Linked DNA regions of Homo sapiens. The protein of the gene in region 1 interacts with the protein of each later gene in a pairwise test. Each region holds a gene or a part of one and is shown in the gene's direction. Other genes may lie near its edges.

The links.
Region 2: the proteins of PLAAT5 (region 1) and ZNF783 interact in binary tests that used the Homo sapiens proteins (3 or more experiments, as listed by UniProt).

The regions. Positions count from the first base shown.
Region 1 is NC_000011.10:63,459,161-63,470,813, reverse strand, and holds the end of PLAAT5 (phospholipase A and acyltransferase 5), read left to right. Parts: intron 1-2,348; coding exon 2,349-2,457; intron 2,458-4,441; coding exon 4,442-4,704; intron 4,705-7,218; coding exon 7,219-7,311; 3' UTR 7,312-9,410; downstream 9,411-11,653. UniProt on the Homo sapiens protein: Exhibits both phospholipase A1/2 and acyltransferase activities. Shows phospholipase A1 (PLA1) and A2 (PLA2) activity, catalyzing the calcium-independent release of fatty acids from the sn-1 or sn-2 position of glycerophospholipids.
Region 2 is NC_000007.14:149,258,258-149,270,584, forward strand, and holds the start of ZNF783 (zinc finger protein 783), read left to right. Parts: upstream 1-3,938; 5' UTR 3,939-4,076; coding exon 4,077-4,100; intron 4,101-4,214; exon of another isoform or gene 4,215-6,253; intron 6,254-6,771; exon of another isoform or gene 6,772-6,810; coding exon of another isoform or gene 6,811-6,867; intron 6,868-8,077; coding exon 8,078-8,473; intron 8,474-8,561; coding exon 8,562-8,688; intron 8,689-8,839; coding exon 8,840-8,965; intron 8,966-12,327. UniProt on the Homo sapiens protein: May be involved in transcriptional regulation.

The DNA.
Region 1 (11,653 bases):
AATTCTCTGATTTTGAGTAAGATGTGAGCAGATAGCAATGGCTTTTCCACATTCTTTATATTTGTACAATTTTTCTAAAGTATAAATGCTTTCGTGTGCAATAAGGCATGAACATTAATTAAAAGTTTTGCCACATTATTTATATTTGTAGGGGTTTTCTTTAGTATGAATTATCTTACATACAGTAAGGTGTGACATCCATTTAAAGGCTTTGCCACATTCTTCACATTTCTAGGATTTCTCACCAGTATAACTTATTTTATGTTTAGAAAAGTATGAGGTGTGGTTAAAAGCTTTTCCACATTTTTCAGATTTGTAGAGTTTATCTCCGGTATGAATTATCTTATGTTTACGGACCTTTAAAATGCTTTGCCATATTCAATCATAGGGTTTCTCTCCAGTATGAATCTCTTATGTATAATAAGAGTTGAAGACTGGTTAAAAGCTTTACCACATTCTTTGCATTTGTAGGGTTTTTCTCCAGCACGAATTATCTTATGTTTACTAAGGCTTGAGATGCACTTAAAAGGCTTTGTCACATCCTTTACATTTATAGGGTTTCTCTCTACTGTGAATTCTCTTATGTTCATTAAGGTTTGAAGACCAGTTAAAGGCTTTGCCACATTATTCACATCTGTAAGAATTCTGTCTAGTATGACTTCTCTGATGTTGAGTTAGGTGTGAGAGCATGTGAAATAATTTGCCACATTCTTTTTTTTTTTTTGAGATGGGAGTCTTGCTCTGTCACCCAGGCTGAAGTGCAATGGCGCGATCTTAGCTCACTGCAACTTCCACCTCCTGGGTTCAAGCTATTCTCCTGCCTCAGCCTCCTGAATAGCTGGAACTGTAGGTGCGTGCCACCAAGCCTGGCTAATTTTTTTGTATTTTTAGTGGAGATGGGGTTTCACCATGCTGGTCAGGCTGGTCTTGAACTCCTGACCTCAGGTGATCCACTCACCTTGGCCTCCCAAAATGCTAGTATTAAAAGTGTGAGCCACTGCACCTGGCCAATTTGCCGTATTCTTTACATTTGAAAGGTTTCTCTCCAGTATGCCATGTCTTATGTCTATTTGAATTCGAAAATTTGCTAGAGACTTTCACATATGTATTACATTAAAATATTTTGCTCTGAGTAGTTGACAAATTAACGACATTAATGACATTAATTAAGTCCATTATGACCTCCTTTGTGCACTTTGCACTCACCCACACTTTTACAGCCTTTCCTTAATTGTAAATTCTCATGTTCACATTTTCCATATCTTTTTAGTATCACTTTTGGGAATGAATCTTTTATACCCTGTTTTGGCCAAAGGTCTTGGGTGAAATGAGAACATGTAACTGGGTGTTTCGCTACCATCTTGTGTCTCTCCATATTCCAGGGCTCTTTTCTTTGCTCCAGGTAGTTGATCAGGTCTGGCTTAGAGACAGCAATACCATTTCTAGGCTTCCAGCGGAGTCCTAACATCTTAGCTATGGATTTCCAAAGACCTGCAGGTCACAGGGCCACAGAAGCTGGGTCTCTAGGAGATGATAACACAGCAGTGAAGGTGCAACCTGGAGCTCTGGTCAAATATTTTTTAAAAAGATGGATGCTTATGTACAACTCTATGCCTACCTATTCATGTATATTCTCATTCTCTCTCTACCTGTCTCTCTCTCTCTCTCACACACACACACACACACACACACACACACACACACACACACGATAATAGAGAAGTTTGCATTTGCTGGGCAAGCAGGACTGAAGTGGCTATTAGCAACTGGTGGTGTGGGTGTGCAGAGGATGGGGGCACCCTCTGGGCTTCAGGTGGGTCACGTGGGGGCCCTGCAGAGGGAATCAGGGTGCCAGCAGGGGCAGGAGGCCTTGAGGATCCTGGGTCTGAGGTAGAACTCTACTAGATGTCCACACACCCACACTACTGACCATCATCCTGCCCACCCCAGCCAGAAACTGCAGGAGAACCCCTTTGTCTTGCAGTACAAGAGAAAGCCAGCACCCTTTACTGAGAAGGTTTAACATCTTACTTGCTTTAAGGAAGAAATGCTTAAAACAAGTTTAGTCATCTATCACAGGGTATATATTGGAGGATACATTCACAGCTGAGAGGCAATACATTGATAACTGGCACGGGTATCCTTGATGGCTTTAGTAATGTGAGTGGGGTAGGAGAGGAGGGGACTTCTTTGGTCCTCAGTGTGAAGAGAAATTTCTTTAGCTTGGGTTTCTGTGAAGTGATGAACCACACTGAGGGGATCTTTAGGCTGAGCTGTCCCTGATCCTAAAACAAGGTCTCTGGAGTTCCTTGAGCATGTGCCATTTATCTTTTATTTTTCCATTATAGGGAAAACCAAGACCCAGACCTGGAGACCTGATTGAGATTTTTCGAATTGGCTATGAGCACTGGGCCATCTATGTAGAAGATGATTGCGTGGTCCATCTGGCTCCCCCAAGTAAGAGTGAATAGTCTATTGAAATACTGATATTGAAGTTAGCAAAGTAAATAGAAGCACAGTTAATTACTGTGTTCCTCAGTTACTGCCATTCTTTAGCAATGGGACCCCTTGAAGCATGACTGGACCTTTGCTTACTGTGTGACAGAGCTTGGTCTCTGTTCACCAAAAACCAATGAGTGTCCAGGCCTAAGAGTGATACAAGTGTAAAGAGCGTGGCCCAAGTTCCCTGACCTCCTAGAGGGCCCTTTGTTTAAATACACACATTTTAGAACTTGAGCTCCATTTTGTATTGACAAAAGTTGAGCATCTATCCTCATCTTTCTGAGGATTCCCCAAGGAGGGTGCAGATGCTCACATGTTCTGATCGTCATTTGTTTTCTATAGTCCTCAGACACTGCATCTGGCTTCTTGATCACCTTTGGCACCTTCGTCCTCACCTTGTCTCGCTGCTGTTCCAACATGCTCCTTGCTGTTTCACCCTAAATGTAGATACAGCCCTCTTTTCATTTCTCACAGCTGCTTAACATATGGCTGAGATTCAATTTGTGTTAATTAAATCTTAGTGGAGATTTGATGGGGGAGGAGGTGATGATAGTAGAGGAAGAGTACAGCAAAATGGGAAACAACTTAAAATTGGGTATCTAGAACTGCTGGTCACAGTGGTTATCTCAGGAGATGAGGCCTGATAAGGGTTGGGGTTTGGGAGAGGAAGGGGTAGGTAGACCCTGTTGAATACCATTGAATGCACTTTGAATGCTGTCTCCTGTGCAGGTATTGCCAGTTCAAAGTTGAATTACAGAAGGGCACTATACCAAAGGCCTTTGGTCCTAACTTGTTCTCAGCTGTCATCCCTGTGTCCTGTCCTCTTCCTCTGGCCCAGTCTCTCACCATGCAGGGATGTTCCCATGGAGCAGAGCCCCTTTCTCATTGCCTCTCTTCTCTGCCCCATCCACTCATACCCTTCCCACTTCTTGTCTCAGAACCTACTCAAAGAATGTAGAAATTCATCTCTTCTTTCCAGACTAAGTCCAGGAGTTTCCCTCTTGTACAACCACAGAGATACTTATCAGTTATGTCTTCCCCCACCCCTATCTTGCTCTCTGAAAATGAATTCTGCCATTTCTGCTCCTGAATGCTGAATTATCTATTGCCAGCTTTTATAAAATCAGCAGATTTTCTTCAAATTTGTAAGAAAAGATCATGGAGCATTTCTTGCCCTTGGACAACTTATAAAGGGAAGGGTATACACATTCGCATATCAACATGGTTGTAGCAGTGCTACTTTAAATGACTACCCACCCAGCTTTGGGCAGGTTCCTGACCCTCTTTCAGTCTCTGTCTCATCTCAGGGCTGAATATGATAATGTAGCACCTTTCAAACATTTCTTTTTTCAAAGCTGTGGAACCCTGTTTTCAAACATACCCTTAATGAGAATCCCCGTATTTGAGTAGAGGTCAGTCAAGTGGCTGTAGGTGGAAGCTGGCAGGAGCAGGTGCCATTCAGAGCCCTGCTTGGCTGGCTTCCCCTGTGTCCCTGTGGCAGCCCAGAGGGAGGCGTGACATGGAACCACCATAATCATGTATGTGATAGCCTTTTACCCATGAGCTGACACTTACATAGAGAGTGCTCTTTACATGTTTGTGAAGATTACTGAAGTCTTCTCAGGAAATGAGACTCAAATCCTAGGACTTGGGTAGGTCAGTGCAACACAGTCTGGGACCACATGGGAAGGTGCTCCAAGAGTTTAATGAGAAAGAGACTCCTGTGCGGGTTGAGAGCAGGGAGTGAGGCGCAGGGCAAAGGGCTTCTCAGGAAAGTTGATTCTCTGCGGTTCTTTGATTCCAACTTCCCCTCTTCTGCCACCCTTCTACTGATGGTGCCAATGAGACTCCAGGGGAAGCAGCTTACTCAGAGTCTTAGACTGTGCTCTGCTTTGCTACTCCTTGTATTTCCCAACCTTTGTTTGTCTTTGGTCTCCAGGTGAGGAGTTTGAGGTGGGCAGCATTACTTCCATCTTTAGCAATCGGGCCGTGGTGAAATACAGTCGTCTGGAGGATGTGCTGCATGGCTGCTCCTGGAAGGTCAATAACAAGCTAGATGGGACGTACCTGCCCTTGCCGGTGGACAAGATCATCCAGCGTACAAAAAAGATGGTCAACAAGATCGTGCAGTACAGCCTGATTGAAGGGAACTGTGAGCACTTTGTCAATGGCCTCAGATATGGCGTACCCCGGAGCCAGCAGGTGTGACCCCATTTGCTCTGATGATGGCTTCTTCCAGAGCTTTCTTGGGGTTTGTCATTTCATTAGTGATCAGAATGGTAATCAGGGCTTTCATTATATTATTCGTTATACTAGTAGGGCCTTCTATTTCTGCAGGACTTTATGGTTCAGGAGGTATTTTCACCTTTATTAACCCAGGGAGGAGTAGAAAAGGCACTGGGCTAATAGTAAGACCAGCGATTGGAGCCCCAGCTCAACTATTAACTAGAGGGGTATCCTTGGTCAAATCAGTATATTTCTGAAAGCTTTTCTTTCTTTTCTTTTTTTCCCCTCTTTCTTTGGAGACAGGATCTCACTCTGTCACCTAGGCTGGAGTGTAATGACATAATCATGGCTCATTGCAGCCACAACCTCCTGGGCTCAGGCCGTCCTCCTGCCTTAGCCTCCTGAATAGCTGGGACTTCAGGTGTGCATCACCACACCCAGTTAATTTTAATTTTTTTGTTGAGAGGTGGTTTTGCTATGTTGCCCAGGCTGGTCTTGAACTCCTGGGCTCAAGTGATCCTCCACTTCGACCTCCCAAAGTGCTGGGATTACAGGTGTAAGCCACCGTGACTGGCCAAAGACCATTTCTTCCTTAACAAAGCAGGGATAAGCAGAAGCAGATACTCTGTTGATAAAATTGCAACCTAGTACTTTGTGGGCCACATCTTGGATACACACACACACACACACACACACACACACACACACACACACTTTTTGTTTGAATTACTTGCCAATATTTAAAAATATAGAAATTTTATATAAAAAGATGTAGGTTCTCAGCTTCTCTCTCTCTCTCTTTTTTTTGAGACAGAGTTTTGCTCTGTCGCCCAAGTTGGAGTGCAGTAGTGCAATCTCGGCTCACTGCAACCTCCGCCTCCTGGGTTCAAGCGATTCTCCTGCCTCAGTCTCCCAAGTAGCTGGGATTACTAGGTGTGCGCCACCACGTCTGGCTAATTTTTGTATTTTGAGTAGAAATGGGGTTTTGCCATGTTGGCCAGGCTGGTCTTGAATGCCTGACCTCAGGTGATCCACCCGCCTCGGCCTCCCAAAGTGCTAGATTACAGGCATGAGCCACTGAGCCTGGCCCTCAGCTTTCTTTTTAACATACAATTGATCAGGCCACTGGGCTGGCATTCCTACTTGCTGACACTCTGTAGGGACATGCTGTGGCTTTGCAGGGGATAAGGGGTAGGTATGTCACCCACCTGCCTCACTCACATTACCTGCCTGGCCTATACTGCATTTGGCTCTGTCACTTCCTCCCATATAGAGAAGTAATAAATTCATGTAGTTCAGTGCATGTGAAATAACTTTGAATCCTAAATGTATGTGAAAACTTGGGCTATTCATGTTAATAGGTGATCCTTACTAAAACTCCATGAGATGAGCAGAGAAAGCATTTATTATCACTACTCCCCTTTTTTTTTGAGACAGAGTCTTGCTCTGTCACCCAGACTGGAGTGCGATGGCGTGATCTCGGCTCACTGCAACCTCTGCCTCCCAGGTTCAAGCGGTTCTCCTGCTTCAGCCTCCCGAGTAGCTGGGACTCCAGGTGCACGCCACCATGCCCAGCTAATTTTTGTATTTTTAGTAGAGATGGGGTTTCACCATGTTGGTCAGGATGGTCTCAATCTCTTGACCTCGTGACCCACACGCCTCAGCCTCCCAAAGTGCTGGGATTACAGGCGTGAGCCACCACACCCAACCTATTATCCCCCTTTAAAGAGATGGAAAAAATTAAGGATTAAAAGAAGAACATAATTATTCTATTTTTTTTCTATGTTTCTTCTGTTGTCTAAGCAGATTGGGCTCACATTCCAATGTTAGTCTCTGCTTTTGCCAGCCCATCCTCAGTGACCATTGGCAGCCTCCCTGCTGTGCCCTTTACTTTCTGCACCTTCCTCCTCTCTGCTCTGCATCCTCTCCAGCCTGCACTCCATTCTTGTGAGGCTTTTCTCTAGTGTCCGGGGCTTGGTGGGCCCTGGTGTGAGAAACCTCCCGTCCCGTGAGAATTTGCACATGAAGACCCCAAGGACTGAGGGCATTACAAGAAGTCCTCTGAAGAAGCTTGGGCCTAGGAGTCATGAGGCCCAAGAACCCAAGAGCTAAGTTTGGACATGAATTCACTGTATGGCTCTGTCCAAGTGAGTTCCGCTCCCTGGCTCTTGGATCCCCTGTTTGTAGAATGAGGGCCTCAGTGGCTGTGGTGCTGTGAGATCCTTTGCCTCTGAGCCCCACACTGGAAGCAGACCCTGGGCCAAATGGCACAGAGGGAGGAAGGGGTTGTCTGTCTCCAACAATCCTGGCTTTTCTTGGTCTCTTGTCACTCTAGGAGTTTTGAAAATATAAGATAGCATGGACTGCTTCTTCTCTTGGGAATAGACTCCAGACAGGCTGGTTGCTGAATGGGTATGGTGGGGTGGAGGTAGGGGAGGGTGCAAGCCTAGGATTGGTACTGATTGTCCTGTGAACTGATGTGCTTTGCAGGTAGAGCACGCCCTGATGGAAGGAGCGAAGGCTGCTGGAGCAGTTATTTCAGCTGTAGTGGATAGCATAAAGCCCAAACCAATAACTGCCTGAAGGTGATGAAAACTCCAGCTAGAGGAAGAGTTACTGACACAAGCAAAAAGAACATGCTTCCTTCCCTTGCCTTCTCTCAATGGCTCCGATTAAGAAAATTGTGAACTTCTGGAAGAATCTACAATGTATCCAATTACCCTTCCAGAAATACATCCAATATATACGAGCATAGACCCACAGACTCTCAGGATGGGAAGGATCTGGTATCTAGTGTGTATCTCTTATGCGCCAGGCACTGTGCTAGGCATTTCATATACGGATCTAATTTCACTCTCTTTGTAGGATGGGACCTTGCTTGTGTCTTAGGCTGACCTTGGTCTCCGATGCTTGAGTGCCATCAGAAACATCCCAGAAACCTCTGCTTGAATATTTCCAGTAACGAAGATGTCTTTTTCCAGATGTTCTTTTTATTTAACTAAAATGTCTCTAGCTTCTTTCCATTTATGATAATCCTGCCCTTTTCGACCCACAGTGTAGCTCAGAGGAGGAGGACCTTAAGAAAAACTGAGATTCGTTATTCAGGGCCCATGGTACCTTAATCTAGAAACACATATCCCAAGAAATATTTTCTTTTTAAAATTATACATCAACTTTATGCCTTATTGTTTAAAAATCTTCTATCAAAAGTATCATCGATAAGACAATTTATCTTGCTTTTGTACCTCATAATTACCCTAAAATGTGAAGTTTCTAGTCTCACTGATTTCAGATGAATATTTAAAATAATTTGATAAGTTTAATCAATTGAACTCTACTGTGTGAGTGAGGGAGAGAAAGGAGTTATTTTTGTGTTTTGAAGAAAGTTGACAGGATGGAAGATCTGAAATTATGGCTGGGGATTGTAGTGATAGCTGGTAGCTGAAACCACCCAAAAAAGCTAGAAAAGTGTTCTCTTATGCCTCCAGAGATACCTAGAAAATATGAAGAATGTGGAAAAGAGCAAGATGGAACCCTCAGAGTGTTTCAGATAAGGTCTGTTGGTATCTCCATAAGCTTTTCTCCTATTTGGAGAAAATAGACTCTCACTGAAACTCTTCAATGTTTTTACCCTCCATCCTTTTCTTAGCAATCTAAACTCAATGGCCTCCTGTTCCCCAACACTGCAGTCTGGGCATCTGACTTTGTCTTCCCTCTGCACTCATTTCTGTGAATCATGACCAGGATGAAACTGATATCCCTAGTTCCTCTTCCCCATTTCTTCTCACACTCCCCTGCCTGAGAATCAGTTGAGTTCCCAATACCTCTTCCTTCAGTCTCTATTCATTATATGGTCTAGGTTGAGACTTCCTTGGAAGCAGAACCTGAGTACCAGGAACTCATATTTTATAAAGTATATTTATTCCTTTTAGCTGCAAACTAACCCAGCCATGTTTTAGTGAATGCTTTAATCTGAAGATGACTTTGAGCTCATTGACCATATTAATCTTTCATCAAACAAACTGGATGTTGTTTCATTAACAAAAAACTCCTCCACACCAAGGAGTGTTTAGTAACTTCTGCACAGAGGACTCATCCATCTCTTGCTTATGTTTGGGACAGAAAGACACTTCTCTGGCTTTTTACTGGCTTGAACCCAATGGGACAGAGACTCTCTAGAAAGTTTCAGGGCTCACATTCACTTGTTTGTCCAAAAAATATTTTTGAGTGTCTCCCAAGTGCCAAACCCTGGCTACTCCCACCTTTGCCTGAGCCCATGAGCGGTAGTCTGGGGGCTGGATGTGAGGAGTTCTGAGTTGGCTAGGAAGACACAAGGCACAATGGACATGGGGCAAAGTCCACTTGCTGGACATTGGTCCCTTCCACTTCCAAGCTGTCCATCAGGCTGAGAGATCTGGAATGCATACCCCACACTTTGAAGATGAGGAAGGGCGAGTTTCTCAAAGTGTGTGTGTGTGTTTCTCTTTTAATCTGTAATGGTTTCTGCATTTTGAGGTAGAAACAGAAATCTCTTTTTTGAGTGGGACCACTCGGGTGCGGCTTCTTAGTCTTGTTGATATAATAAAGCACATGCCCACTCCTCATGGAGTGGAGAGGAGAAAATTCTAAGGGAACGTACTCTGAATGCAAATGTTTCTGAGATTAAACACTAGTCACTTGTTTGTGTGCTTATTTTTCACTTTTTGGGAATGGGTGGGTGATTGGGGCAGTGGTGGTATTGGTTCACTTGGGCATGTCACATGGAGAATCAGAGAACTTGAAAGTGCTGGGTTCCTTAATGGTAGGGAGGCCCAGTACTAGTGACACATGATCCAGCAGGGGGCTGCGCACAATCCAGTTATTTTGCTTAATGATAGAAAAGATAACTTTAGGAAACAAACACCTCTGCAGAGATTTTAGAGCCATAAAGGAATCTGGTTTTGCTGCCTAGGGGTGGAGAACATGTCAGCCAGAGATGCCAACTGAAAAAAAGGGAATGGACCCCACCATAGGGGCAGCAGGGCAGAGGCGGCAGGGGAAAAGCCAGAAGGGACCCTTGGGTGACACCAGGAGTAGAAAGAAGCTGCTCTCTAGTTCCCAGTTTTAAGTTATTGTCACATACTCCCCTTTTGTTATCTTCAAGCTTTGTTATTCGCTGTTCTTGGGGAATAAAAGGAGAAGTATGGTTTGTGGTACCCAAAAAGTTTGTAGCTATGGAGAGAAGAGGCTCAGGACCAGTGGTGGTCCATAGGAAACAAGCAGACCAGAGAGGCACCATGTTGGTTGAAAATGTAAGCTACCTTTGGTATCCTCTGGAATATTTTGGGAAAGAACTGGATTTCCTGCAGTCATGTAGGAGCGGGGCTTTGTCAAAGAAGGAAGATTTTAAAGGGAAGGGTGATTCCTGACTCTGTAGGACTTGGGTCCTTATAACCCACATAGGCAAGTACAGCACAAAGGGCATAGGGGCTGGATATATAGCATTCTGGTGATCATAGGCCATTTTGATCTCCACACTGTTCCTCTAGAAACTTCTTATCACTTTAGGAGAACAACCAATGGTAATCCAAACTCTAAGAAGGCTATCTGAGCCACTTAAAGTTCTGTTCTCCCAAAGTTTCTGGTCGCATTATTTTCAAAGCCAATTTTCAGCTGGGCAGAATCTTTACTAGGAATCCAACTATTTGTGAACCCCATGCTGCTGCTTCTTGGCAGACAGCAAAAGTGTATTTTTTTTTTCCAGGAGTATGGTGGTATTTACTTTGTTTTAAAAATATTCTTGTTGGGGGTTCTGGCAAGATGGTCGAATAGGAACAGCTCCAGTCTGCAGCTCCCAGTGAGACCTATGCAGAAGGCGGGTGATTTCTGCATTTCCAACTGAGATATCCTGTTTATCTCATTGCGACTGGTTAGACAGTGGGTGCAGCCCATGGAGGGCGAGCATAAGCAAGGTGGGGCATCACCTTACCCGGGAAGTGCAAGGAGCAGGAGGCCTCCCTTTCCCAGCCAAGGGAAGCCATGAGGGACTGTGCTATCCCACCCAGATACTATGCTTTTCCCATAGCTTTTGCAATCCGCAAACCAGGAGATTCCATGGTGAGCCTACACCACCAGGGCCCTGGGTTTCAAGCACAAAACTGGGCGGCTGTTCGGGCAGACACCGAGCCAGCTGCAGAAATTTTTTTTTCATCCCCTGGTGGCGCCTGGAACCCCAGAGAGTCAGAACCGTTCACTTACCTGGAAAGGAGGCTGAAGCCAGGGAGCCAAGTAGTCTCGCTCAGCAGGTCCCACTCCCATGGAGCCCAGCAAGCTATGAATCACTGGCTTGAAATTCCTGCTGCCAGCACAGCAGGAATTGACCTGGGATGTTGACCTGGGATGATTGAGCTAGCAGAAGACAAGAAAAAAGTAACATCAGAGTGGAACTGAAGGAGACAGAGACACAAAAAACTTTTCAAATAATCTGAATCCAGGGGCTTTTTTTTTTTTTGAAAAAATTAAGGAAATAGACTGCTAGCTAGACTAATAAAGAAGAAAAGAGAATATCAAATAAACACAATAAAAAATGATACAGAGTTTCATTTGCATCCTTGTGAAGAGACCACCAAACAGGCTTTGTGTGAGCAACAAGGCTGTTTCACCTGGGTGCAGGCGGGCTGAGTCCGAAAAGAGTCAGCCAAGGGAGATAGGGGTGGGGCTGTTTTACAAGATTTGGGTAGGTAAAGGAAAATTACAGTCAAAGGGGGGTTGTTCTCTGGTGGGCAGGGGTGGGGGTCACAAGGTGCTCAGTGGGGGAGCTTTTTGAGCCAGGATGAGCCAGGAGAAGGAATTTCACAAGGTAGTGTCACCAGTTAAGGTAAGGACTGGCCATTTTAACTTCTTTTGTGGTGGAATGTCATCAGTTAAGGCAGGAACAGGCCATTTA
Region 2 (12,327 bases), on another chromosome or scaffold:
TAGAGTTTGTTCACTCACAAATATCTGAGTATCCTCCCTGTGCAGAATTCTACAGAGGGGTACAGGGATAAATCTTGCTCTTGGACTTACAGGCTACTAAGGGAATATAAGATAGAATAGTAATGTCTTCAGATAAGTGAGGGTAAAAGGCTTTAAGCATTCAGAGAACAATTATTTTAGATGTGAGACATTAGGGAAGACTTCGTGATAGGTGGTATTTGAACTGGCCTTTTAAGGATGGGAGGAAGGACATTCTAAATGGAGGTGACATGACCAAGTCAGGAGACATTATGGGACATGTACAGAAGAGGAGTTCATCCAATTTCGGGAGGGTGGAGTGTGAGAAGGAGAGTAGTGGGTGTTAAGAGTTGGGTCAGGCTTCAAGGAGTCTGGATTTTATTCGGTTGATAATGGGGAGCTGAAGAATTTTGAGCAAAAGAGTGACCTGATTCTAGCTGTGATTTGGGAATACTAATAAGAATTATACTGTGCTTTTTGGGGGGTGTGAGGTTTGGGATATGTTAGAAGGTTTCAAGTGAGATCAAGGAAGAGCCAGTGAGGACCTACCTGATTGGGTGCAGCTGCAGTGGGAAGGGAACAATAGATAAGACCAAGAAACAGTCACAGGATGTGATGCTGTGGGAATGGAGGGACCATTTTTTTTTTTTTTTTTTTTTTTTTGAGACGGAGCCTTGCTCTGTCGCCCAGGCTGGAGTGCAGTGGCGCCATCTCAGCTCACTGCAAGCTCCGCCTCCTGGGTTCAGGCCATTCTCCTGCCTCAGCCTCCCAAGTAGCTGGGACTACAGGCGCCTACCACCACGCCCGGCTAATTTTTTGTATTTTTAGTAGAGACGGGGTTTCATCGTGTTAGCCAGGATGGTCTTGATCTCCTGAGCTCGTGATCCGCCCGCCTCGGCCTCCCAAAGTGCTGGGATTACAGGCGTGAGCCACCGCGCCTGGCCTCAGGAGGGACCATGTCTTACTCCTATCAGCCTCCACAGCTCTCAGCACAGGTGCTTGGCACATAGGTGCTCAGCAAATGTTTGCTGAATGAGAAAGTATAATGGGTGTTCACAGAATAGAGAGCTGGGTGTTGTCTGAAATAGAGAAGGCTTCTATGGAGGAAGTGGGATTTGGCTGTACTTCTGGTCTCCCTCTACTAATGCTTCCGTTCCTAACATCTTTATAATTCTGTGTGGGTCCACCTCCTAATCTAAATTACATTCCTGGCTTGGAGGATGAGGGAGCCACAGGAATTCTGTCTCTGACCTGCCACTATCTCTTGGCTGAGGATGTTCTGGTGGGGACAATGGCACTTGAGTGTGCTGACCTCTTGTTGAGTGACCCTGGGTACTACTTTGGTGGCCCTCAAATTGTGACAACCCTACCTTCTGCAGGTGGAGTCACCCTTGTTACTCCACGGACTGGGCCTCCACTGGATGTTGTCAGTTCACCCAGAGATAATCAGGTCCTGGAAATCTGATCCCCCAAAAAACAAACTCACAAGAGACAGATTAACAATTAAAGATGAATGTAGGCTGAGCGTGGTGGCTGATGCCTGTAATCCCGGCACTTTTGGAGGCCGAGGTGGGTGGATCTCCTGAGGTCAGGAGTTTGAGACCAGCCTGGCCAACATGGTGAAACCCCGTCTCTACTAAAAATACTAAAAATTAGCCTGGCATGGTGGCAGGAACCTGTAATCCCAGCTACTCGGGAGGCTGAGGCAGGAGAATCTCTTGAACCTGGGAGGTGGAGGTTGCAGTGAGCCGAGATCGTGCCATTGCACTTCATCTTGGGCAACAAGAGCGAAACTCCGTCTTAAAAAAAAAAAGCCACCATGTAATTTTAATTTATATCAGAGCTGGCTTGACACCCCGGCTGGTCTGCTCAGAAACCACATTATGGTGCAAAGTGTTCGTTTATTAAATATATTTATAAAATCTGAGCATGGGAATGGGAGGTAGCTGTGGGACCCTGATAAACAGTGCCAAGGTTTTCGAACTGTGATCACCAGACCAATAGAATCAGCATTTCTTGGGAACTAGTTAGAATTGCAAATTCGCATCACTTTCATCCCCTCCTGTTTCAGACCTAGAAATGTTGAGGTTTGTGCCTAGCATCCTGTATTTTTAACAAGAACCCTCAGTGAACATGATGCACACTGAAGTTTGAGTACCACTGACTTAGAGAAACTTTTTTTCTAAAAAACGAAGACTAGCTGTCAAACATTATAGCACTCTTTCCTCAACAGAGCTCATTAAATCCTAGCATTTTTGTCTCCAGCCCATTTTCCTGACCCTTTCTTTCTTTCTTTTTCTTTTTTTTTTTTTTTGAGATGGGGTTTTGCTCTTGTTGCCCAGGCTGGAGTGCAATGGCATGATCTCGGCTTACTGCAACCTCTGCTTCCCGGGTTCAAGCGATTATCCTGCCTCAGCCTCCAGAGTACCTCACCACCACACCCAGCTAATTTTTTGTATTAGTAGAGATGGGGTTTCATCATGTTGGCCAGGCTGGTCTCGAACTCCTGACCTCAGGTGATCCATCCGCCTCAGCCTCCCAAACTGCTGGGATTACAGGCATGAGCCACGGCTCCTGGCCCATTTTCCTGACCCTTTCTGTTTGCATTGGACCTTAACTGTTATTCTATAACGTCACCATTTACTGGTATTTTATAATCCTGAATAGATTGGACTGATCCCTGATAAGATCCTAGGGATGCTCTTAATGTCTTTAGTGCATACTTGCAGTTTGTGTTTTAGATTGGGATAGTTCAACAAGAATTTCCAAAATGAATAATGCCAAATATTTATTTGATTTGTTACCTTAAAGTAACACGTCCTAACCTTTCCGCAAATTTTGGGGTTCACCTTACTTAGGATATCAGTTTGTGTTTTTTCTGATAGTTGACCACGCTTTTGCTTGGCTCAAATATTTGTGAAAATAACTTCTCACCCTCACCCCCCCCCCCCAAAAAAGAAAAAACAAAACCAAAACCAAAAAACCCCAAACAAACCCAAACACAGAAAGAAACAAAACTGCAGATTTCTAGCGGGAAGAGTTTGCCAGCTTGTTGGACAAAGACTGTGAGATGAATGGGAAATGCAGAAAAGACAGAAAACAAAGCTTCAACTGCATACAGCACATTTAGTTCAATATGCCTCAGCACAGGCCGAGGAAAATGGGTCCTGCGGTTTATTCAAGATGCCTCAGGGCCTAAATGAGGGATGGACTGATTCACACTTGCTGTGATCTCAGCCTGGACCAAAGCTACAGAAGGGTCCTCGTGGGTGGCTGAGGACTTTCACCAGGCGGGCCCCGGGAGGAGGAAGGGACCCCAGAGTCCTCAGGAGGGGAGGGCAGGCTTAGGAAAAAAAAAAAAAAAATCCTACCATCTTCACGTTTGTTCTGTCAAATTTAAAAGAGACTTTAAAAACGTTCATGTAAGTTTCCCTGGCTTCTCCCTGGGTACACACGTATCCTTTTTACTTTCCCCAACTCAGTTCTGTGGTGCGTGGGAGGCGCTGCAACAGAGTCTCGGTCCGGACTGGAGCCCCGGCGAGGGCCGACCCCGTTCCCCACGCAGCTTTCCCTCGCGAGGTTTCGCACTTTCCAGCGCGGTTCCTTCCCGCAGCCCTCCCGGCTCCCGCGTGGGACGCAGAGAGAGGTTGGGCGCCGCGCTGGCCCGGGAGTGGCTTACGCCTGACGTAGCCCCGCTGGAGGCCGTGGCACGCCCGCCCTGGCGTCAACTCCCGCGCCCCGGGTGAGGGTGGGTGGCCGCGCCTGGGTCCCGGACGCCGCGGGCGCTGAAGGCCTCGGGAGGGCGCGGGGCGGCGGCCGCGGGCGTGCGGTCCTACGGGCTGCAGGGGGCGCTGTGCGCGTCCTCAAGCTCGGCCGCCGAGCGCAGCTCTTTTTTAAAGGGCCAGCGGGGCACGTGGCTCGGGACGCAGTTCGCTGCCGCCCGGCAGTAGCTCTCAGGTTAGGCGGGTCCCGCTCCGCTTCCGCCGTCGCTGCCGCGCCGCCCCGGGCCCGACAGGCCGGGTCCAGGGACTGCAACCCAGCGAGGGACGCGGGCAGCCATGGCCGAAGCGGCGCCTGCCCGGGTAAGCGCCCTCGGCCCCGCGGACGCCCGGAAGGCCCAGGCCGCCGCCGCGTGAGCCCGCGCGAGGGACTCTGGCCGCGCGAGGCCGCGGGGTGAGAGGGCCTTGCGCGCAGCCTCCGCGCTCGTTGCCCCCGGCCCATCGCCCAGCCCGCGTCGAAGGCATTGACCGGGCGGCCCAAATGCCAGGCCCGGCGGGCGGGGCCCCGACGTCAGCGGCTGACGATCCGGCCCATCTGCGGCCTCAGCCAGGCCGGGCCCCAGAGTCACGCTCGGCGACGAGGAGGCCGCGCCTTAGGAGTATTGTCCCATTTGAGGCCTCGCGGCCCCCCCTACAGCAGGCTGGGCGGGCAGGGGCCGCCAGCCCCACGGGACAGTAGCGGAGGCTGAGATGGGAAGGGACAGGCCCAGGGTCACGCATCTATTAGAGGCGGGAGCCTCACGCCGGGGCAGGGATTTTGGAATTAGACACTTTAAAACGCCTCATATTCTACTTTTGCCAAAGAGAAAGATTGTGTCGTTTACAAGAGAGATAGTAGATTTTTTTAAAAAAGATTACTGTAGCAGATTTTATTTAATTTTTTTTTTTGAGAGGGAGTCTCGCTCTGTTGCGCATGCTGGATGGAGTGCAGTGGCACGATCTCGGCTCACTGCAAGCTCCGCCTCCCGGCTTCAAGGGATTCTCCTGCCTCAGCCTCCCAAGTAGCTGGGACTACAGGCGCCTGCTACCACGCCTGGCTAATTTTTCTATTTTTGGTAGAGACTGGGTTTCACTATGTTGGCCAGGCTGGTCTCGAACCCCTGACCTCGTGATCTGCCCGCCCCGGCCTCCCAAAGTGCTGGGATTACAGACGAGAGCTACCGCGCCCGGCCATTTTAAAATTTTTTAATTAAAAAAGTATATATATATACGTGTGTGTGTGTGTGTGTGTGTGTGTGTGTGTGTGTGTGTATATATATATATATATATATTTTTTTTTTAGACACAGTCTCACTCTCACCCAGGGTGGAGTGTAGTGGCGGGATCTCATCTCACTGCAACCTCTGCCTCTGCCTCCCGGGTTCAAGGTATTCTCCTGCCTCAGCCTCCCAATCCCAAGTAGCTGGGATTACAGGCGCAGGTGCCTGTCTCATTTATATCTATCTATCTATCTGTCCAGATACATATCTATATGAATAAGTTTATTCATAAGAATACACTATAAGTATTCCTATACAGAATTTTTCTCCTGGAGAAGGAAGAATCACATCAGTTTTTTTGGCATCTTCATCTATATAAGTTAGGCCAGTTTAGCAGATTTTAGAATCTTGGTTTGATATAGTGCAGTATGTCCAATTGGGAGATTATAATCCTTTGGCCATTTTTGACATACTGGAAAACGCTTGTAAAGGCTCAATAGATGATACCTACTATTATTAATACACCTCAGTGAAGGTTTTGAAACCTTGATTTTTCTGGATACTTTTATTAAAGTATAACTTCCTCTCCCTCCTCTTAGTGAGTGTGCTGAGCTTCTTTTTGGGTTCCCTGAGTGCAAGGGAGAGAAAAAGCGTTGAGGATTCTGCAGGTTTATAGTCCTGTTCCCTGGGAAGAGGGGGCCCTAGAAGGTGACATCATCCACTCCCCCTAGCCTGGGGCTCACTGCTTCACTACCTTTCAGATCACTCCTGTCCACCTGCTCCTCCCTTCTTGCAGCACTTGAGATCCCAAAAAACTCCCCAAAAGGGACAGATTTGCCCTGGACTCTTGTTAGCCCATCCTATCACACTGTTGTTGTTTATAAGTATTCCTATACAGAATTTTTCTCCTGGAGAAGGAAGAACCACATCAGTTTTTTCTTCATCTTCACTGTACATTTACTATGATAGGTGTTCAGTAATTGTTATTGAATGAATGAAGCAATTATAGATTACTAGTGCTAAGGGGGAGGGGCAGTGAAAATCTCTAGGATGCGTTGTCTATGCTAGAATCTTAAAAACGAGAGAGACTCAGGCATACAGAGGATGCATATTGAGAGCTGATGTGAAGTTGGAGGAGGGCCGGGTGGGTCCTCGGAATCCACAGGAGGCTGGCATGGCTGGAGCACGACAGGAACTGGATGGCTCAAGGTCAAGAGAGGTCGGCTGGGCCATGAAGAAGTCTAGATCTTATGCCAGGTACACTGGGAAGCTATTGAAGAGTTTTAAGCAGGGTACTGAAATGATCTATTTGTGTTTTTAAAAGATTACCAGGCCGGGAGCAGTGGCTCACTGACTCACGCCTGTAATCCCAGCACTTTGGGAGGCTGAGGCGGGCGGATCACAAGGTCAGGAGTTTGAGACCAGCCTGGCCAATATGGTGAAAGCCTGTCTCTACTGAAAATATAAAAATCAGCTGGGTGTGGTGGCGGGCGTCTGTAGTCCCAGCTACTTGGGAGGCTGAGGCAGGAGAATCGCTTGAACTTGGGAGGTGGAGGTTGCAGTGAGCCGAGATTGCGCCACTGTACCCCAGCCTGGGCGACAGAGCAAGACTCCGTCTCAAAAAAAAAAAAAAAAAAAAGATTAACAATTACTCTGTGGAAAGTGTATTGTCGGGGAGAAGCCTGGAAGTAGGGGAGAAGGCTGGAAGTGGGGGAGAAGGCTGGAAGTGGGGGAGAAGGCTGGAAGTGGGGGAGAAGGCTGGAAGTGGGGAAATCAGGTGGGCAGGACCGCAGTGGCCCAGGCCAAGCAAGGTGATGGGAACTTGGACTAGACACTGGCAGTGGAGAAGGAGAAACATGGATGGATTTGAGGTAATTTTGGAAGTTAGGACCTGATGGTGATTTAACCATGAAGGATGAATGAAATTGAGGAGTGAGATGTTGATTTGTCTCTCCAACAAGGCTTTTAGCAGCACCAACCAGGACTGTGCCCATTGCGCATGCACAATGAGGGCTTGTGAATCAGATACCAGGGTAAGCTGAGGCACTTGAGAAGCTTTTTCCAAGGCACTGAAGGACAATGGAATAAAAGAGGTGGAGGTTAAAAAAAAGGCCATATGAACTATTTATACCATATCCCTGAGCTGGAACCATCACCATAATCACTGTCATTGTCTCAGTCTGCTCAGGCTGCCTTGGTTCCCGGCAGGGCTCTTTTCCTGGTTTGCAGACGGCTGCCTTCTCATTGTATCCTCACGTGGCATACAGCAAGATCATCTCCCTTGTGTCTCCTCTTACAAGGGCGCTAATCCTATTTATGAGGGCTCTGCCTTCATGGCCTAATTGCCTCCCAGAAGCTCCACCTCCAAATACCGGCATATTGGGGATTAATGCTTCAGCAGATGGATATTGAGGGAGACACAAGCATTCATTCCATAGCAGTCAGTGTCATCTTAGCCCTGCAACATGGGGCTCATGTTTATTATCTGTGCTGTGCTACACATTGTACTAAGTGCTTTGTACACAGATTTTTCTTAATTCTCTCAGTGCTATTGTATAGGTACTATTATTATCTCCATTTTCTAGATAGGGAAGGGAAGTTGGAAGCTGTTGAAAACACCTTGCCCACAGTTGGCCAGCTTGTAAGTGGCAGAGCTGAGTTGCACCTGGGCTGTCCACTGGGGAGTCATGTTCTCTGTGCCACAAAGCCTTGTCCTTTCATTTTTAGAAGAGGAAACTGAGACCCAAGAAGGGGAGTCACTTGTTTGAGACTGCACGTGGTTGCTCAAGCCTGTGGGGCATGCCCCGTCTCCATAGCTAGCCTGTAGGACAGGAGCCGGGGCTGTTTTTCTTCCACTTTCCCACTTGCTGACACGTTGGTCCAGCCACTATCTCTTGTATCAGTTAGGCTGGATTCCTAACTGATACCCTAGCCTCTCCCTCTCCCCCCCAGTCTGCTGCTAACTCAGGAGCCCAGATGGGACTTTACCATGGCAGGTGTCATTTCCGAAGTGTGTTTTTGAGGTGGAAGTTTTGATTGTATAATTCTCATAACATCTCTCTTTTCTCTTCTTGTGAGCAGGACCCCGAGACAGACAAGCACACAGAGGACCAGAGTCCTTCGACACCCTTGCCCCAGCCAGCTGCTGAGAAGAACTCGTACCTCTACTCCACGGAAATCACACTGTGGACGGTGGTGGCCGCCATTCAGGCCTTGGAGAAGAAGGTGGATTCCTGCCTGACCCGCTTGCTGACTCTGGAGGGGCGCACGGGGACAGCCGAGAAGAAGCTGGCCGACTGCGAGAAGACAGCTGTGGAGTTCGGGAACCAGCTGGAGGGCAAGTGGGCCGTGCTGGGGACCTTGCTGCAGGAGTACGGGCTGCTGCAGAGGCGGCTGGAGAATGTGGAGAACTTGCTGCGCAACAGGAACTTCTGGATCTTGCGGCTGCCCCCGGGCAGCAAGGGGGAGGCCCCCAAGGTAGCACCGGGACACCCTGGGGTGGGGGAGCTCGAGGGGCTGAGCCTGTGAGCGTGTGGGTGAGTGAGTGCGACACTTATGGTTCCAGGTGCCCGTGACCTTCGATGATGTGGCCGTGTATTTCTCTGAGCTGGAGTGGGGCAAGCTGGAGGACTGGCAGAAGGAGCTCTACAAGCACGTGATGAGGGGCAACTACGAGACGCTGGTCTCCCTGGGTAAGGCCACGGAGGGAGGATCTGGGCCTCTGTCCACAGGTTGTCTGTGGACAGTCTGTGTCTTTGCTTTGGCTTTTGGTACTTTGGGCATCTCTGCATCTCTGTGGGCATGTGGGGTCCAGCTCTTCCTCATTTCTTGTTCTGTGCACAGATTATGCAATCTCCAAACCAGACATCCTCACCCGGATAGAGAGGGGAGAGGAGCCTTGTCTTGACCGGTGGGGCCAGGAGAAGGGGAATGAAGTAGAGGTGGGACGTCCAAGGATGATGGGCACTGGTAAGTATAGGAGCCAGATGTGGTTGGGGGGCCGCCAGGGGCTAGCTGCACCATCGCCTACCCTCTCGGGCTTCCCAGACAATCAGGGAGGGCAGGAAGGGAGCATAGACCATTAACCCAAAGTGGGACCACTCTGTACAAGGCCACCCTGGGCAGGAGTGGGTGGCTGGCTTGAGCCATAGGGTTTCTATATCTGTCTAAGGTGGAACATCACACTCACCTTACGTGGTTGTGATGACTGAGTGATAAGTGTTAAGCATGTACATACTGATCACTTTATAATAGTGGAGACTGGCCTGGCGCGGTGGCTCACGCCTGTAATCCCAGCACTTTGGGAGGCTGAGGCGGGCGGATCATGAGGTCAGGAGATCGAGACCATCCTGGTTAACATAGTGAAACCCCTTCTCTAGTAAAAATACAAAAAATTAGCCGGGCGTGGTGGCAGGCGCCTGTAGTCCCAGCTACTCGGGAGGCTGAGGCAGGAGAATGGCGTGAACCCGGGAGGCGGAGTTTGCAATGAGCCGAGATTGCGCCACTGCACTCCAGCCTGGGTGACGGAGCAAGACTTCATCTAAAAAAAAAAATAATGGGGACTTAGTAATACCTCCACCAGCAGCACTGCTGCCTCCTGGCATCTTCACGTGTGTCCATGTCCCCGCTATTGCTTGTGTCCCCTATTGCAGTCCCACAACCCCAGCCTGTGGCAGGAAGGCATGTCACGTGCTGGCTTCCATTTGTGTACATGGCCCTTGGTAGGAGGGCCAGGCATGCCCTGTCCTTGTAGCTGGTATATAGGACAGTGGTTCCAAAGGGGACTGCACATCACAATCCTCTGGGGAGCTTTATTTTTTCAATTAAATTTTAATAAAGTAGAATAGCACAGCGAATCTCCAAATGATCGTCACCAAAACTCAACACTCTGCTGGGTTTTGCCACATGCGCTTCATCCATCTGTTTTTACCCTTTTCCTGAACAATGACCACATACCATGATCACACCCACAGAATATCAGAATATCATCTAATACCATCTAATACCTAGCCTTTGTTTTGTTTTCCCTAGTTGTCTCAAAAATGTTTTCTATGGGTCTTTGGATCCTAATTGTAATACACCCAAGTCCACATTTTACATTTGGTTTACGTCTCTGAAGTATATTAAAAAAACTTATGACAATCCCCCCAGTCTTTTTCAACAGCTTTATTGAGATATAATTCATATACTATATAATTCACCTGTTAAAGTGTACAATTGAGTACTTTTAAAAAAAATTTCAACTTTTAATTTGGATATAGGCATACACCTGCGGGTTTGTTACATGGGTATATTGTGCCCAGGTAGTGAGCATAGTACCCAAGCTTTTCAATCCATTCTCCTCTCTTTCCCTTCCCCCTGTAGTAGTCCACAGTGTCTATTTTTGCCAGGTTTATGTCAATGTGTGCTCATTGTTTAGGTCCCAGTTATAAGTGAGAACATGCAATATTTGGTTTTCTGTTCTTGCATTAGTTCACTTAGGATTATGGCCTTCAGCTTCATGTTGCTGCACAGGACATGATTTCATTCGTTTTTATGGCTATGTAATATTCCATGGTGTATATGTACCACATTTTCTTTATTCAGTCCACCACTGATGGACACCCAGGTTGATTCCATGTCTTTGCTATTGTGAATAACATTGTGATGAACATACGTGTGCATGTATATTTTTGGTATAATGATCTATTTTCCTTTGGGTATATACCCAGTAACAGGATTGCTGGGTCAAATGGTAGTTCTGTTTTAAGTCCCTTGAGAAATCTTCAAACTGCTTTCCACAGTGGCTGAACTAACTTACATTCCCATCAACAGTGTATAGGCATTCCATTTTCTCTACAGCCTCACCAGCATCTGACGGTTTTTGAGTTTTTAATAATTGCCATTCTGACTGGTGTGAGATGGTATCTCATGGTTTTGATTTACATTTCTCTGATGATTAGTGATGGTGAGCATTTTTTCATGTTTGTTGGCCGCTTGCATGTCTTCTTTTAAGAAATGTCTGTTCATGTCCTTTGCCCATTTATTGCTTGTTGATTTAAGTTCCTTATAGATGCTGGATGTTAGACCTTTGTCAGATGCATAGTTTCCAGATATTTTCTCCCATTCTGTAGGTTGTCAGCTTACTCTGTTGGTAGTTTCTTTTGCTCTGCAGAAGCTCTTTAGTTTAATTAGGTCCCACTTGTCAATTTTTGTTTTTGTTGCAGTTGCTTTTGAGGACTTAGCCAAAAATTCTTTGCCAAGGGCAATATCGAGGAGGGTATTTCCTAGGTTTTATTCTAGAATTTTTATAATTTGAGGTCTTACATTTAAATCTTTAATCCATCTTGAGTTACTTTTTGCATATGGTGAAAGGTAAGGGTCTAGCTTCATTCTTCTGCACATGTCTAGCTAGTTACCCTAGCAACATTTTTTTTAAATTTTATTATTATTATACTTTAAGTTTTAGGGTGCATGTGCACAATGTGCAGGTTTGTTACATATGTATACATGTGCCATGTTGGTGTGCTGCACCCATTAACTCGTCACTTAGTATTAGGTATATCTTCTAATGCTATCCCTCCCCCCTCCCCCCACCCCACAACAGTCCCTGGTGTGTGATGTTTCCCTTTCTGTGTCCATGTGTTCTCATTGTTCAGTTCCCACCTATGAGTGAGGGCATGCGGTGTTTGGTTTTTTGTCCTTGCGATAGTTTGCTGAGAATGATGGTTTCCAGCTTCATCCGTGTCCCTACAAAGGACATGAACTCATCATTTTTTATGGCTGCATAGTATTCCATGGTGTATATGTGCCACATTTTCTTAATCCAGTCTATCATTGTTGGACATTTGGGTTGGTTCCAAGTGTTTGCTATTGTGAATAGTGCTGCAATAAACATACGTATGCATGTGTCTTTATAGCAGCATGATTTATAATCCTTTGGGTATATACCCAGTAATGGGATGGCTTACCCCAGCAACATTTATTGAATAGGGAAGGGAGTCTTTTCACCATTGCATTTTTTTTAGTCAGACTACAGGTGCACGCCACCATATCCGGCTAATTTTTGTATTTTTTCGTAAAGACAGAGTTTCACTATATTGCCCAGGCTGGTCTCAAACTCTTGGGCTCAAGCAGTCCACCTACTTTTGCCTCCGAAAATGCTAGTCAGCTTTTTTAGTTACCCTGAGATTCAGTCTGCACTGAAAAGGCAGAATGGATGCTTAATTCTTTCCTTTATCAGTTTCAGAATGAATGAAGAGTTGCTGCCTTAGTAGCCTCCAAAGGTGACCCATGACTTGGGCTTCTTTTTTTTCCTGAGTTAAGTTATTGTGACTTCACAGATAATTGGA